Linked DNA regions of Homo sapiens. The protein of the gene in region 2 purifies or fractionates together with the protein of the main gene of each other region. This does not show direct contact. Each region holds a gene or a part of one and is shown on either strand. Other genes may lie near its edges.

What was found. The genes of interacting proteins can lie anywhere in the genome.
Region 1: the proteins of USP15 (region 2) and RNF40 purify together in Homo sapiens (affinity purification with mass spectrometry; 4 studies listed by BioGRID and IntAct, with this or other methods). This does not show direct contact.

Annotation. Positions count from the first base shown.
Region 1 is NC_000016.10:30,771,374-30,776,807, forward strand, and holds the end of RNF40 (E3 ubiquitin-protein ligase BRE1B), read left to right. Parts: intron 1-459; coding exon 460-600; intron 601-715; coding exon 716-817; intron 818-2,564; coding exon 2,565-2,741; 3' UTR 2,742-4,934; downstream 4,935-5,434.
Region 2 is NC_000012.12:62,263,404-62,272,299, forward strand, and holds part of USP15 (ubiquitin carboxyl-terminal hydrolase 15), read left to right. Parts: intron 1-8,896. UniProt on the Homo sapiens protein: Hydrolase that removes conjugated ubiquitin from target proteins and regulates various pathways such as the TGF-beta receptor signaling, NF-kappa-B and RNF41/NRDP1-PRKN pathways.

The DNA of each region.
Region 1 (5,434 bases), on a different chromosome or scaffold from region 2:
TTGGGAGGCCGAGGCGGGCAGATCATGAGGTCAGGAGATCTAGACCATCCTGGCTAACACGGTGAAACCCCATCTCTACTAAAAATACAAAAAATTAGCTGGGTGTGGTGGTGGGCGCCTATAGTCCCAGCTACTCGGGAGGCTGAGGCAGGAGAATGGTGTGAACCCAGGAGTCGGAGGTTGCAGTGAGCTGAGATCGTGTCACTGGACTCCAGCGTGGGGGACAGAGTAAGACTCCGTCTCAAAAAAACAAAAAACAAAGAAACCCCAAAAAACAGCATCACACGGGAGGAACTGGAGAGGGAGAACAGGAGGGGAGGGCTTAGGGCTCAGGAGGCAGGAGCAGCTCCAGGGCAGGTGTCACTGGGGCCCTGGACAGAAGCATTGGTGGGCCGTGACTCCACATGCCTGAGTCACCAGGCTCAGACCAGTGCCTCCTTCCTGTTCCACCCTACTCAGGCTGTAGAAGCCGCCCAGCTGGCCGAGGACCTGAAGGTGCAGCTGGAGCACGTGCAGACTCGGCTGCGGGAGATCCAGCCCTGCCTGGCAGAGAGCCGGGCTGCTCGTGAGAAAGAGAGCTTCAACCTCAAGAGGGCTCAGGTGTGTGCAGGGGTGAGGGGCCAGGCCAGGGTGGTCCACGGTCACGGACCTATCCTGGGGGCAAGCGGCTCAAGGTTGAGGACCCTTGCCCTTAGCCAGGCCTCTCCTGCCCCAGGAGGACATCTCACGGCTGCGGCGCAAGCTGGAAAAGCAGAGGAAGGTGGAGGTCTACGCAGATGCCGACGAAATCCTCCAGGAGGAGATCAAGGAGTACAAGGTGGGGCTGTGGGCCAAGTTGTGCCCTATCCACCTGAGAATTGTAGATGCAGGATTGCTGAGACTAGTGGAGAGTCTGGGGACCCTGGAAGTAATGTAGGGCAGCAGAAAGTGGGCAGCACAGTGGTCACAGAGTCAAATGCTGTTTGCTGTACATGTACTGTGAGCCAGGCACAGTGCTTGGCTGGGTGTGGGTTGGGAGGCTAGGAACTGGCCCTGGTCTCTGACTTCTTGAAACTGACAGTCAGGGGAGGAGGCAGCCAAGTAATTCTCTCATCCCAGATGTGTAATATGATGGCAGAGGCCAGAGGGGCTGAGGGGACTCAGGGGAGGCCCTTCCCCTGGCCCTGGGGTCAGCAGGCTTCCTGGAGTGAATGTCACCACAGCAGACCTGAAGAATAGGCCAGACGTGGCTGTGAGGAACGGGAGTGAGTAGCTTTAGGCAAAGGGAACAGCAGATGTGGACGCTTGAGCGGAGGGGTTGCTGGGACAGCACCGGAGGTTGTAATCAGAGGAGCCAATGTGGAGAGGTTGGGCCGTGTCACCTCCTGAAGAGTGCGGTACGCCAGGTTGAGACCTCAAAGGGTTTTAAACAGGAGAGTGATGTGGTTAGATTTGTTGTTGGTTTTGGGCTGGAAGAGGTAGACTGGAGGCAGGGAAATTGTTAAGGTATTGCAGTCACTGAGGCAGAAACCAGAGTAGATGGGTTCAGGAGACATTTCAGAGGCAGAATTGCTTGGACTCGGGGGTGGATCGAATGCATGGAGTGAGGGAAAGGGAACACTTGGAGGACTCCTGGTTTCCTGGTTTGAGAAACTAGGTGGATAGTTAGTACCATTTAGGGGGTTAGGAGGCCTGCGGGGGAGCAGGTTCTATGGGATGGTGTCAAAGGATGCTGAGAAGGTGCCTGTGGGACCCCTTTGGGAGGCTGGGAAGGTGCTCAAGGCAAAAGGGCCGGGCTGGAGAACAGGCTTGGGGAATGTCAGTAGAGGCAGAGGTGGAAGCCACATATGACTTGGTCATCCCTTGGAAGCAGTTGAGCCTTGAAGGGCAGAGGCAGCTGGAGGCAGCCATGGGGTAGAGGCAGGCTTGGGAGCCTGTTCAGTGCTGGTGTGTAGGGTCCTGGGAGACAGGAGTGATGGCAGGGAGGCTGCTGAGGCGGCAGGCTGGGCTGGGATTTTAGCAGGCTGGAGGAGCACTGTTGGGGGATGCTGAGTTGAGTCAATCCATGTCTGGAGTTGGAGGTGAGACCCTCCTGGTGGCGGAAGAGAGGTCTCAGGCTAAGAAGGGACCCACGGCAGGGTCTCTGGCCAGTGTCGAGGCTGGGCCCAGTTGAGGGTAGAGAGAACAGATTTCTAGTTGCATTGCCATTCCAGCTGTGACTTAGCAAGTGCAGGTGAAGAGGTAGACAAGATTGGGATTTCACCAGAGGCGGCCAGTGGGGCAGGAGATGAAGCCCCAAGGCAGAGTCCAGGCTGGGCCTGTGGGTCCTTGTCCTTTTGAGGGGACACATGATAGCCATCACTGCCCAGTGATGAATCCGGACTCTGCTGATTTCTAGTGTTGAGACCTTGGCCTCTGCACCTCAGTTTGCTCATTCATAGAGTGCTCGTCCTTACCTCCAGGGTTATGGGAGGATGAGGTGCAGTCTCCAGTGTGGTGGGCTTGGCCTGGACTCCTCCTGCTGTCAGCTTGGGGTCTGGGCACTGTCAGAGTTGTTCCCAAGCTGATGCCTTTGCCTGGCCCAGGCGCGGTTGACCTGCCCCTGCTGTAACACCCGCAAGAAGGATGCAGTCCTTACCAAGTGCTTCCACGTTTTCTGCTTCGAGTGCGTGCGGGGCCGCTATGAGGCCCGCCAGAGGAAGTGCCCCAAGTGCAACGCGGCCTTTGGTGCCCACGACTTCCATCGTATCTACATCAGCTGAACCTGAAACTCAGGGGACTCTGGAACACCATGGACCCTGGGGGCTGTGCCCCCATCTCCTCCCCACCCCAGGTCTAGTGGCCCCACCCTCCATTCCGGACCCCATGGGCCCAGCCCCTGCCCATCTAGTTGGTTTGGGGACCCTGGTGCATGCTAGTGGGCATGGGATCAGCCAAGCTTCGTTCCATCTTTTCCTAAAGGTCAGAGCTGCAGCCTAGGGGGCACTGCCCTACAGAAAAGGTCTGCCTGAGAGGCCTGAGGAGCCCAGAGCACTTGACTGAGCTTCCCGGAAACTGGCCCTAACCTGTCTGTCTCCGTGGATGCATCCTAACCCTAAGGAAAATTCCCCAGGCTGTGATCTACCCTAGAGAAGGCTCGCTCCCTGCCTACTGGCTCACAAATGAGGACCAGTGAGCCATGTCCTTGTTCCTTGTTTGAGACTGGGCTGCAGGCCCCAGGAAGACTTTCCTTCACCCACCATCCCCCTAACCTCGGCAGGGCTTCTGTCCTGTGGAGTTCCCTGGACACCTTGGTCTGGCTCTTGTGCCAAGGGCTGAAGGAGGTACCCTCTTGGCAGATGGGGGCATCACTTGCTTCCTTTGGGAAGCTCTAAGGTTGCTGCAGTCACCTTCCTCATCTTGCAGGTGCTGAACCAACATCATCAGTTTCTATTCTAATCAGGCCCCTTCCCAATCTCCATTTCTCTGCCAAGCCCATTTACCCCCACCTCATGCATCCCAAGGCTCTACTGGGTCCCTGGACCTAACCCTGCTTTCATCCTGGTGGCCTTAACTACAGTGGAGGTGGAACTTCCCAGGAGGGGAAGGGACAGACCAGCCCCAGCCGCTGGGCCAACTTCCAATCATTCCAGCTAGAAGAGCTTCCCCCTGACACCCTGTGACTGAGCCTGTGTCCTGTCTGCCTGCCCAGCCATGCTCCATCGGCTGTGAGGGCAGTGCCCGGAGAGGCCAGAGGGTTGGAGCTGCAGGGACCCGTTTGGACCCACAGCCTCTGTTCTAGAGATGCTTGTATAGGCTGTTAATTGTGATGAATAAACGTTCAACCCTCGGCCTGCAGCCAGAGTAGCCAGGCCGCGCACCCCAAATGTAGTCCCCCGATTTTAGCTGCAGCAGCTGAGCAGCACTTTGCTGGCTTGGTGTGAGCCTGGGAGGGCTCAGACTTAACGGCCGGCAGGGATCCCGGACTGGGCCTGAAGGGGAGAGCGTGGTGGTCGTCGCGGAGCCGCCTGTCCTGCTCCCACCGACCCCGGTCTGACCACGTCCTTGGCTGTCATGGCCGGGGGATGCCGGGACTCCTCGGGCTGCATCCTGGGAAGTGTAGTTCCTGGTCCGCACATGGTTAGGAGGTTCTCGGAGAGAGAGCTAGTTTCCCGGTTGCGCTGGCCAAAGGCCGGCCTGAACTGGATCCTGCGGACCGCTTCTCAGCGGCTTCACCCCCACACCACTCGAATGCACAGATCGGGACACCTCAGCTGGGTGACTTCCCTCGTTGCAATCGGCCTCGGGAGCGGTGCGGCGTGTACCGAGCGGCGCCCCTGGGCTCAGCGCGCTGCAGGCGCCCCGGGCGGATCCTTCACCGAGGCAGGACTGGGGCTGGCGCCAGAGCCGGTGCGGAGCGGTGTTGGTTCAGGCGCTGGCGACAGTGCTATGGCCACGGCAGGGGCCGCGTGCGTCTCAGCGGTGGCGCCTTCGGACCCTATTGGCGCCCGGGACTTAAGCGGGGCCGCCGCTGCTGGACCAGGACGAACTGGAGAAGGAGACGCGGGCCGCCACGGTGACCTCGGGCGTAGGGCCGGCGGCGGCGGGCACGCTGGTGGAAGCGCGGGCCGCGGCAGGGGAGGACATCGGGCCGCAGAGAAAGTGCCGATGGCCTGGGGCAGCGGTGCGAGGGTGGGAAAAACGCAGGATATTGCATCATAGAGACGCGGCCACCTTCGCCCCTGGAGAGCGCCAGTCTCAGGAGCGCCGCACCGGTCACGGGTGGAGGTCAGCCAGGCCTCCGTAAGCGCGGTCCCCTTCCAGGAGTAGCCTTCGCCTGGGCTCTTGAGTAGATGCCAAGTAATTCCGCATCGTCTCTCTAGATATCTGCGCTAAAGGCCACCCGGTCTCCTTATCAGAGGGGCAAAACTCTCCTCGTGGGTCTTCATACCTAATAAAAGTCGGCATCAAACCACTTTTTCAAGGTCAAGTCCAAGGGAACGGGGTGAAGATCCCACAATGTCAGTGAGGCAGCAACCACTGATGTGGTGGCAGGAACCAAACCTTTTTTTTTTTTTTTTTTTTTTGAGACGGAGTCTCACTCTGTCTCCCAGGCTGGAGTGCAGTGGCACGATCTCGGCTCACTGCAACCTCTACTTCCCGGGTTCAAGCGATTCTCCTGCCTCAGTCTCCCGAGTAGCTGGGACTGCAGGCGTGCACCACTGCGCCCAGCTAATTTTTGTATTTTTAGAGACAGGGTTTCACCATGTTGGTCAGGCTGGTCTCAAACTCCTGACATCATGATCTGCCTGCCTCGGCCTCCCAAAGTGCTGGGATTACAGGCGTGAGCCACTGTGTCCGGCCAGGAACCAAACTCTTAATAAACATTTCCCATGAGGCTCCGGTGCCGGGAGGATTTGCCTTAATTTTTTGACTGCTTACCACCCCTAGTGGTCCCAGTGGCAGCGGTACCCTG
Region 2 (8,896 bases):
TGCAGATAATGACTGTCTCATGGTAACTCGGGTAACTAACTTCCATACCTAGGCAAGTATAAAGATTTATTTCATTCTGTGTAAGTACTACAGTTTCTCTTTATTTGTAAGCAGTGAATGATTTTTATCTAAAAACTGATTTTCTAGAGATGAAAATAAGTTACACAAGTGTGAGATGAAGAGAAACATACTTTATGATGTATTTAGTTCTAGACTTTATATTGAGAAGTAAATCAAAATTAATACGAGAGTAATACCTTTTTAAAAAGCAAGAAGAAGGTAGCACTGATTTGTATAAGGAATAAAGCAGTCTCAAAATGATATTTGTTGATCTGTGTTTCAATTTCAACAAGAGATCAGAAAAACACGAACAAAATTTAGAGTTTAGGAACTATAGGAAAGAGATAAATGAACTAGAATTGTATCGCTTAGGATGAATTAAAAACAATTTTCAGATACATGGTGGTTTCTTCTGATGAGACAAAAAGATAATTTGCTTAAGGTACATATGAGTATTTTAGGAACATATTTAAGGAATGGTAGTTAATGAGTTACAAAGAAAATTATGGGTTATAAAATACTCTCTTTGGAAAAAAAGTTTTTGAAACAGAGTCTCGCTGTGTCGCCCAGGCTAGAGTACAGTGCGTGGTCTCGGCTCACCGCAACCACCTCCAGGGTTCAAGTGATCCTCCCACCTCAGCCTCCGCAGTAGCTGGGCCTGCAGGCACATGCCACCACGCCCAGCTAATTTTTTATTTTTAGTAGAGACAGGGTTTCCCCATGTTACCCGGGTTGGTCTCGAACTCCTGGCCTCAAGTGATCTGCCTACCTTGGCCTCCCAGAGGGCCGGGATTACAGGTGTGAACCACCTGCAAAATTTCTGGCCTGGAAATTTTTAAAGAAATGGGCCTATTATGAGTAAGTAAAACATAACCACAAATCATCCAAAGCACTGCTTCGTTTCCACCATTTTTATTAAATGTTATTCATCTGCCAATCATTTTCAGTAATTTTTATGTGTGATTATGTTAAGTGGTAATGTGTAGTTAACTTTTGCAGTTTAGCAAAACATTGCATGCCATTTTTGTATAAACCCTAATAACTGTAGTAGGTAACTTTACAGAGTAAGTAATTTGTGTGTGAAGTCATTTAAAATCTCTGTGACATTTTCATTTCAATAATTGCCAAAGAATCTGATCAGTGAAGTTTTAGACAAGAGACATTGATTTCAGTTTTTAGAGCTTTCTGTCCATTCCGACTTTTACTTAGAAATCTTTGAGGCTTAATTTTATTTGATCCCTTATGTTCGTGCAACTTTGAAACTAAAAGAAAATAACCTTATACTCACAAATCCCTTAATAATGAAAAGGAACACTATTACTCAACATGAATTTCAAAATATTTAGTGTATACTTAAAGAAATTTTTATATTACTATTACTTTTAAAATTAGTTTCAGTAGTGCCAGGGTGTTTACGACCAGAGTAGGGTATATACTACATCATTTATAGGAAATGAAACTAAAAGGAAAAACTTCTTCAGTCTTGGTAAATTGGTGAAAACAAGGACAGAGATAGTGACCTTAAGGCATGTTTCACATCTTAGATGCTTAAAAATCTAGGAAAGCAACTTTTCTTAATTTAAGCCTTTTTCGTAAGTTTTTAAATGACTTCTGTTAGTGAGTCCAGGGTTAATGTACCCTAATAGTCCAGGAAGGTCCAGAGCTAGTCAATGATTTCGTTTATCTGTTTTGTGAAATTAAGGCTTTTTTTCCTAAATTATACCATTTTCCTGTTAGCACATATAAGGCATTAAATGACCTTTTTGCAAAATGGTTTTGTGACAGTTAACAATTTTGCTTCTACGTAAGTGTAACAAGATAAAATCAGTTTGTCAGGCCATGACCTGTAATATTACATTTAAAAACACTATGTGCCAGGTACTGTTATAAATGCATATTGACTTATTTACTCATCACCATATTACCACAATTCTGGGAATCGGTGTTATTCACATTTGACAAAATAGGAATCATAGGCTCAAAAAGGTTTTCACATAGTGGTATAGCTGGGATTTGAACCCAAGTAGTTTAGGTCTTTGGTTTGTGCCCTTAAAGCACTGTACCACATTGCCTCTGATTTTATTTAAAAAAATTTTTTCTAGAGACAGAGTCTCGCTTCATCACCCAGGCTGGAGTGTAGTGGCATAGTCATAGCTCACTGTAGCTTCAAACTCCTTGGCTCAAGCAATTTTCCTGCCTCAGCCTCTGAAATAGCTGGAACTACAGGTGTGCGCCACCACACCCAGCTAATTTTTAAAGTTTTTGTGGAGACGGGATCTTACTGTGTTGCCTAGACTGGTTTGAAACTCCTGACCTCAAATGATCCTCTGACTTCAGCCTCGCAAGTATTAATAGCTGGGATTACAGGTGTGAACCCCTATGCCCAGCCTCTGTCTCTTATTTTAAAGATTCATTTTTTAAAAAGTAGATTCACTTTAAAAAGAAAAGAACCTATTTTTCTTTTTAAAGGAAGTCTATTTTATATTTAGTAGCAGAATTCTACCATTTGCCTCTTGTGACTGTTCAGTTTAGATATGATAGAACATGTAGGAAATCTTAACACCTTGCTTCTGGATATTAAAACATGCTTAAAGATTGATAGGTGAATAATTGAATGTACAGAGCAAATGTCATTTTGATCCACAAGTACATTCAGACAAAAAAATTTGAGGTCATTTACTATTGAGCTTTTGAATTTTAATTGTCTATCAATAATCATAAGCTCTTATTAGAGATGATATGGCCCCTTCACATATAGTTTTACAGAAATAACCCATGAAGCATATAGTAAGATCTTGTAGGCTATTTTGTTTCGGTACTTGGTCCATATTTTAAAAGTATGGTATTGGTTTACTATAAGCCACAAATACATACGGCTTTCTTCTTGGACTTAAATCCATATGAACCACTCAGCACAGAAAATGCAAATATGAATGCATTATTATGTTCACCAACTGATTTTTTCCCTAGAGATAACTCTTAAAGAATTTTTGAAGTGAAAGAACATTTAAATTAAGATAGTGGAAGATACAATGATAATAAAACAGTCAATTTTGCTATCTTAGTCTTGAATTTATCTTATGATGTGAGTTTAGAGTGATTCTTCTTTTTTTCACTGAAAATCACTTCATTAATAAGTCATGATTATTGACAAAAGTAAATTGAAACCATTGGGCATATTGGTAGGGAAATAAGGGGAAGATAGAGAACAACTGATAAAGGTTGATTATGTGCATTACGAGATTTGATCCTCAAAAGAAGGACCAAAATATATATATTTATATGACTTATAGATGAGGAATCTGAGAGAAATTAATTTGCTTGCTCATAGTTTACTACCAGCGGACATTTATTAAATGCTTAGTCTGTCGCAGCCACTATTTTAAATGCTTTACACTTACATAGCCTTTAAAGTACATGCTCTTATTACACTTCATTTTATCTTTGATGATTTCAGAGCTGGTTTAAATACCTGGTTTATAAAGATTTAAAGTACTAGATACTATCTAATACTAAGAATAGATCCTTAGTATTAAAAATGGTTTTATGCTGTCACTACTCGAATGTAATTCAAACAATATTTCATTAAACCATGGGAATTTCTCTTTTTTCTTAGTCCTTGTATAGAATTTTTCAACAATTACTAAATACTTTTTTTCTTCCCTGAGTAATGTCAGTCTAGCTTGTTTCTTTTAATTTCCTCACTTACCACTGTAATTCACATTCTGTGTCTCATATTCATTCCTCTGAAGCCACTTCGCCAGACTCGTTCTCCCATTTATCCTTTAAACAGGGGAATGTAGATCCTTTAGATTTTATCACCCAGTTTACACAAAAGTCACTATTCAAGAAATCTAGCATAAGCCTAGTAAGTAGCCTCAGTTTTGGATACAGATTAAAATTATTTGAGGGAAGGGTCAAAAATGGCTCCTTACAAAGAAGGAAATAAGTTCCAATTATAATATAAAACAGAAAACCCCTGTAGGATTAACCTGCATTTGATTATGTCTAGACTGCCTTTACTACTTCCATCACTAAGATTCTACATGGTTTCCTTATAGCTCTCCAAAAAGAAAAGAGTAATGATGCCTTTTTTTCCTCCAAGGAATGGAGAACTAAGAATGCTAACTGTCCCTTCCATTCTCCCTTTAGTTTTGAGAAGACCCAGATATTAGCGTGGTAATTCCCCACCATAAGAGAAAATCATTTAGCAGAAGTACCAGTAGCAAGGACTTCTTTGTGAAGGAAGTCAAAGATCTCACAAAGAAGTTCAAGGGTGGCTCTGAGGCCAGGGTATTCTAAGTTTAGAGCCAGTTAAATCAAGACCTGAGAACATTTAGAGACAAAGTTACTTAACTGAAAAGAGCATCAAGTTCCTTGTTCCAGGTAGAAAACACCTGGTAATCTGGATTGATTTCTGTTATTTACCCATATGTTTTTACAGCTTAACAAAGTTTAACAGGTTAGTCAAGAGATTTGCCTTTGATAAAAAGATGGGAAATTTATATTCATACATTTGAATGGATTTCAAGCTGAAGAACTTTTTAATTCTCAGGAGAGATGTAGCTAAGTATTTATATGTACCACATAGTTGTGGCTATGGTTTACAATAACTTATTACTCATTTACTATGTTAAGAGCATTTTAAAAGTTCTCTAGATACAGGTTCCATATATAATGTAATATATTTATTCCAAATATATTACATATATGAAATACATGGTAGTATTCTCATTTTACCAGTACAGAAACTGGGATAGTTAAATGTATATGGTCATAACACTTAGTCAGTGGTAGAGCAGGAGGTCTAACTTAAAGCTTGCATTTTAAATTCTAAGTGTACTGCCTGCCTATGTGTGATAGAGCCATACCCAGATTATGGAAGCAACTTTTTGAAAGACAAATACTTGAAAGTATTAAAATCAAGAAATGACAGCTTTGTAATACTTGTTAAACACATTTTCATTTGTTATTAATATCAAGAGCCTCTAGAATTTTGTGAGTCTTCTTGTTTTAGCCTTGTAGTCTCAGCAGTCTCATTTCTAATTAACATATCTCTGTTTTGATACAGATAGTGTCTCCCATTTCCTGCAAATTATTTGCTTTTTCCTGCTTTTGGGGCCTTTATGCCCCATTTCTGTTGTTTCAGATACTTCTTAAAAATTACTGACTTTCATTTCAAAACCTAGTTCAAAGTCAGTCTCTAAAACCACCTCTAATCTCATCCAAATTTGTGGCCCCTCCATTCTTTGCTTTTAAAATATATATGTATATATAAAACAGCTTTATTGTGATGCTATTCACATACCTTACAATTTGCCCACTTAAAGTGGACAGTTCACTGGGTTTTAGTATACTCGAAAGAGTTGTGCAGCCATGACCATAATCAATTTTGGAATCCAAAAAGGAACCTCATACCCATTAATAGTCACCTCCCATTTCTCTCCCAAACTCCTCTGTTCTAGGCAGCTACTAATCTATTTTCTGTCTTTATATATTTGCCTATTCTGGATATTTTATATAAATGGAATCGTATAGTATGTGCGATTTTTGCATCTTGCTTCTTTTACTTAGCATACATGTTTTCTAGGTTCATGCATGTTATAGCATATATCAATGTTTATTTTTACTGCTGAATGATACAGTCATGAGTCACTTAATGACAAGGATAACTTCTGAGAAATGTATGGTTAGGCAATTTTGTCGTTGTGTGAACATCTTAAGGGGGTACTTACACAAATCTAGATGGGATTGCCTACTACATACCTAGGATGTATTGCCTATTGCTCCTAGGCAAAAAAAACCTGTACAACATGTTACTGTAGTGCATACTGTAGTCAATTCTAATACAATGGTAAGTATATATATATGTGTGTGTGTATAAATATATATATGTGTGTGTGTGTATATATATATATCTAAACATAGAAAAGGTAGAGTAAAAATACAATATTATGATCTTTTTTGTTTTTAGAGACAGGGTCTGGCTCTGTCACCCAGACTGAAATGCAGTAGCCCAATATTGGCTCACATTGCCCTTGATCTCCTGGGCTCAAGCAATTCCACTGCCTCATCCTCCCAATTAGCTAGGACTACAGGCAAGCACCACTGTGTCTATTTTTTATTTTTATTTTTTTGTAGAAATGAGGATCTTGCTGTGTTGCCCAGGCTGGTCTTGAACTCCTGGCCTCAAGCACTCCTCCCACCTTAGTCTTCCAAAGTGTTGGGATTATAGGCATGAGCCACTGTGTCTAGCCAGACATAATGTGTCTGTTATTGACCTAAATGTTGTTATGTGGTATGTGACCATATTCCATTGTATAGATATAACACATTTGATATATCCATTTATCAATTGATAGACATTTGAATTTCCAATTTTTGCCTATTTTGAATAATCCTGCTATGAACATCCATTACAAGTTTTCATTTCTCGTGTATATACCTGTAAGTGGAATTGCTAGGTCCCTGTTTAACTTTTTAAGGAACTGCTAGACTGTTTTTCTAAGTGGCCGTAATTTTACATTGCCACCAGCAGTGTATGAGGGTTCCAGTTTTTTCACCTCGTCAGCACTTATGTTCTTTTTTTTAATATATAGCCATCTTAGTGGATATGAAGTAGTATCTCATTGTAGTTTTGATTTGCATTTTCTTGATAGGTAATGATGTTGAGTATCTTTTCACCTGCTTATTGGCCATTTGTATGTCTTTTGGATGTCTGTCCAGATTCTTTGCCCATTTAAAAAATTTGGTTATTTTGTCTTTTTATTATTGCATTGTAAAAGTTCTCTAGATACAGGTTCCTTATTAAATAGTTAATTTACAAATTTTTCTCCCATTCTGTGGATTTTCTTTTTACTTTCTTGGTAGTGTCCACTGAAACATGGAAGTTTTTATTTTATTGAAATTCAATTTGCCTGTTTTTTCCTTTGTCACTTTTGCTTTTGGTATCATGTCTAAGAAGGCTTGGCTTAACTCAAGGTCATGAGGATTTACTCATATATTTTCTTTTCCAAGTTTTGTAGTTCTGGCTCTTACATTTAAGTCTGTAATTCAATCGAGTTAATTTTTTGTGTATATGGTCAGGGGAGGAGTTCAATTTCATTCTTTTGCATGTGGTTATCCAGTTGTCCCAAAACTATTTGTCAAAAAGATCATTCTTTTCCCTGTGCAATTATCTTGGTACCCTGCTTGAAAATCAATTGACTGTAAAAGTGAGGGTTTATTTCTAGATTCTATATTTGATTGACATATACCAGTACCAGATTATAACTGTGTAGACAGTTTTAAAATCTGGAACTGTGTCCTCCAACAACTTTTCAAGTTTGTTTTGGCCCTCTTCTCTTATTAGTTTACACTATGTTGAAATGTTGTTTTGTAAATATTCTTAAATATGTGTATTTCATTACTCCGTATAAATGACACACTCATCTTTTTGCAGCCTGTCTTCTTACCTTCTCTCATTCGAAATCTACCCCATCTCTTTATTTCTTAGAGGTATGTGGTATAGTAGTATTTGCAGTGAATGTTTTGTGTCATTTAACCCATGGATCTCTCTTCCACTCCTAATCTCATGCCCCAAAAGCACAAACAATGCGCTGTCTTAAGAACATAGATAAGTGTGCTAATTATCAAAAACACATTTACAGTACCTGGAAAATGTAAGACAACACCCTCAGCAGATGAAAATGACCTGGCATCCTAAAAGGAGGCTAAACTCACATTAATCCTTCAAATGAAAAAATCGTCACATCATACCCTTTAAATAATGCTTTAAAACATTCAAAATTATTTATGAATAATTATTTATGAGTCTTTGTGGAAATGCAGTTATGCAAGAAAAGTATAAAAATATTCATGGAATGATAAATGCTAAATCAGAGTAAGGGTATTCCAAGAGAGGGGCCCACAAGGGGCTATATTAATATTTATGATAATTTTCTTTAGGTGCTTGTTTTGATGGTATGTATATAGATGCTCGTTATTATTCGAAGTTTAATGTATGCCTTTATATGATACAAAATACTTTTAAAAAGCGAAGTTGATTGTAAGAGCTTTTTATTTTGAGGAAGTCCCAATTTTTCTTAGTTTTTTCTGTTTATTATTTTTATATTGTTAATACCAAACCTAATTCTCCCGGTGTAGAAAAGTTACACAGAGCTGAGAGAATTTATGTAGAGTCAAGCATTATTAATTATCATTTCCTTCTTGCTTCATATATGCTTATCACGCTTATATGTCACATATGGTTACAAGATATCTTTAGTATGGAGAGACATACACATTTAAGATATTAATGGTCATGTATGTGTATTCTGGATGAATAGTTTAAAAACAATCTTACTTGGCCTCCTTGAGTTTCTTATTTGTCTTAGTTTAGATCTAAAAAGAGATCATAAAAATTATTTATTGCTAGGTGATGGATTTAATGTGTGGAGAAGAAAATAGGTTAGAAGTGCATGGAATCTAAAAATTAAGCTATAAAGAGATGGTAAACTATTCCATTGGTTTATTTGAGTGAATTTCATAGTTTTATTTGTTTCAGTTTTACTGAAACCATGAAATTCTGAGTCTTAGTTTGTGGTACTTAAAAAAAAAGTCAGTGAAATATCTGATTTATAATAATTTAAAATACTAGATGCTGCCAGTATCTCCTTAGTGTTGAAAATTGTTTTATGCTATCACTACTCAAATATAATTTAAGCATTTTGTTAAATAAGAGAATTAGTCATAAGAGTGAATTAGTATCCAGAATTGTTTATGCCATTCTGCACAAGATGATTATAAATATTTTTCTGAGATTAAGTGTGCTACATTGGATTAGGCTGAGATTTTT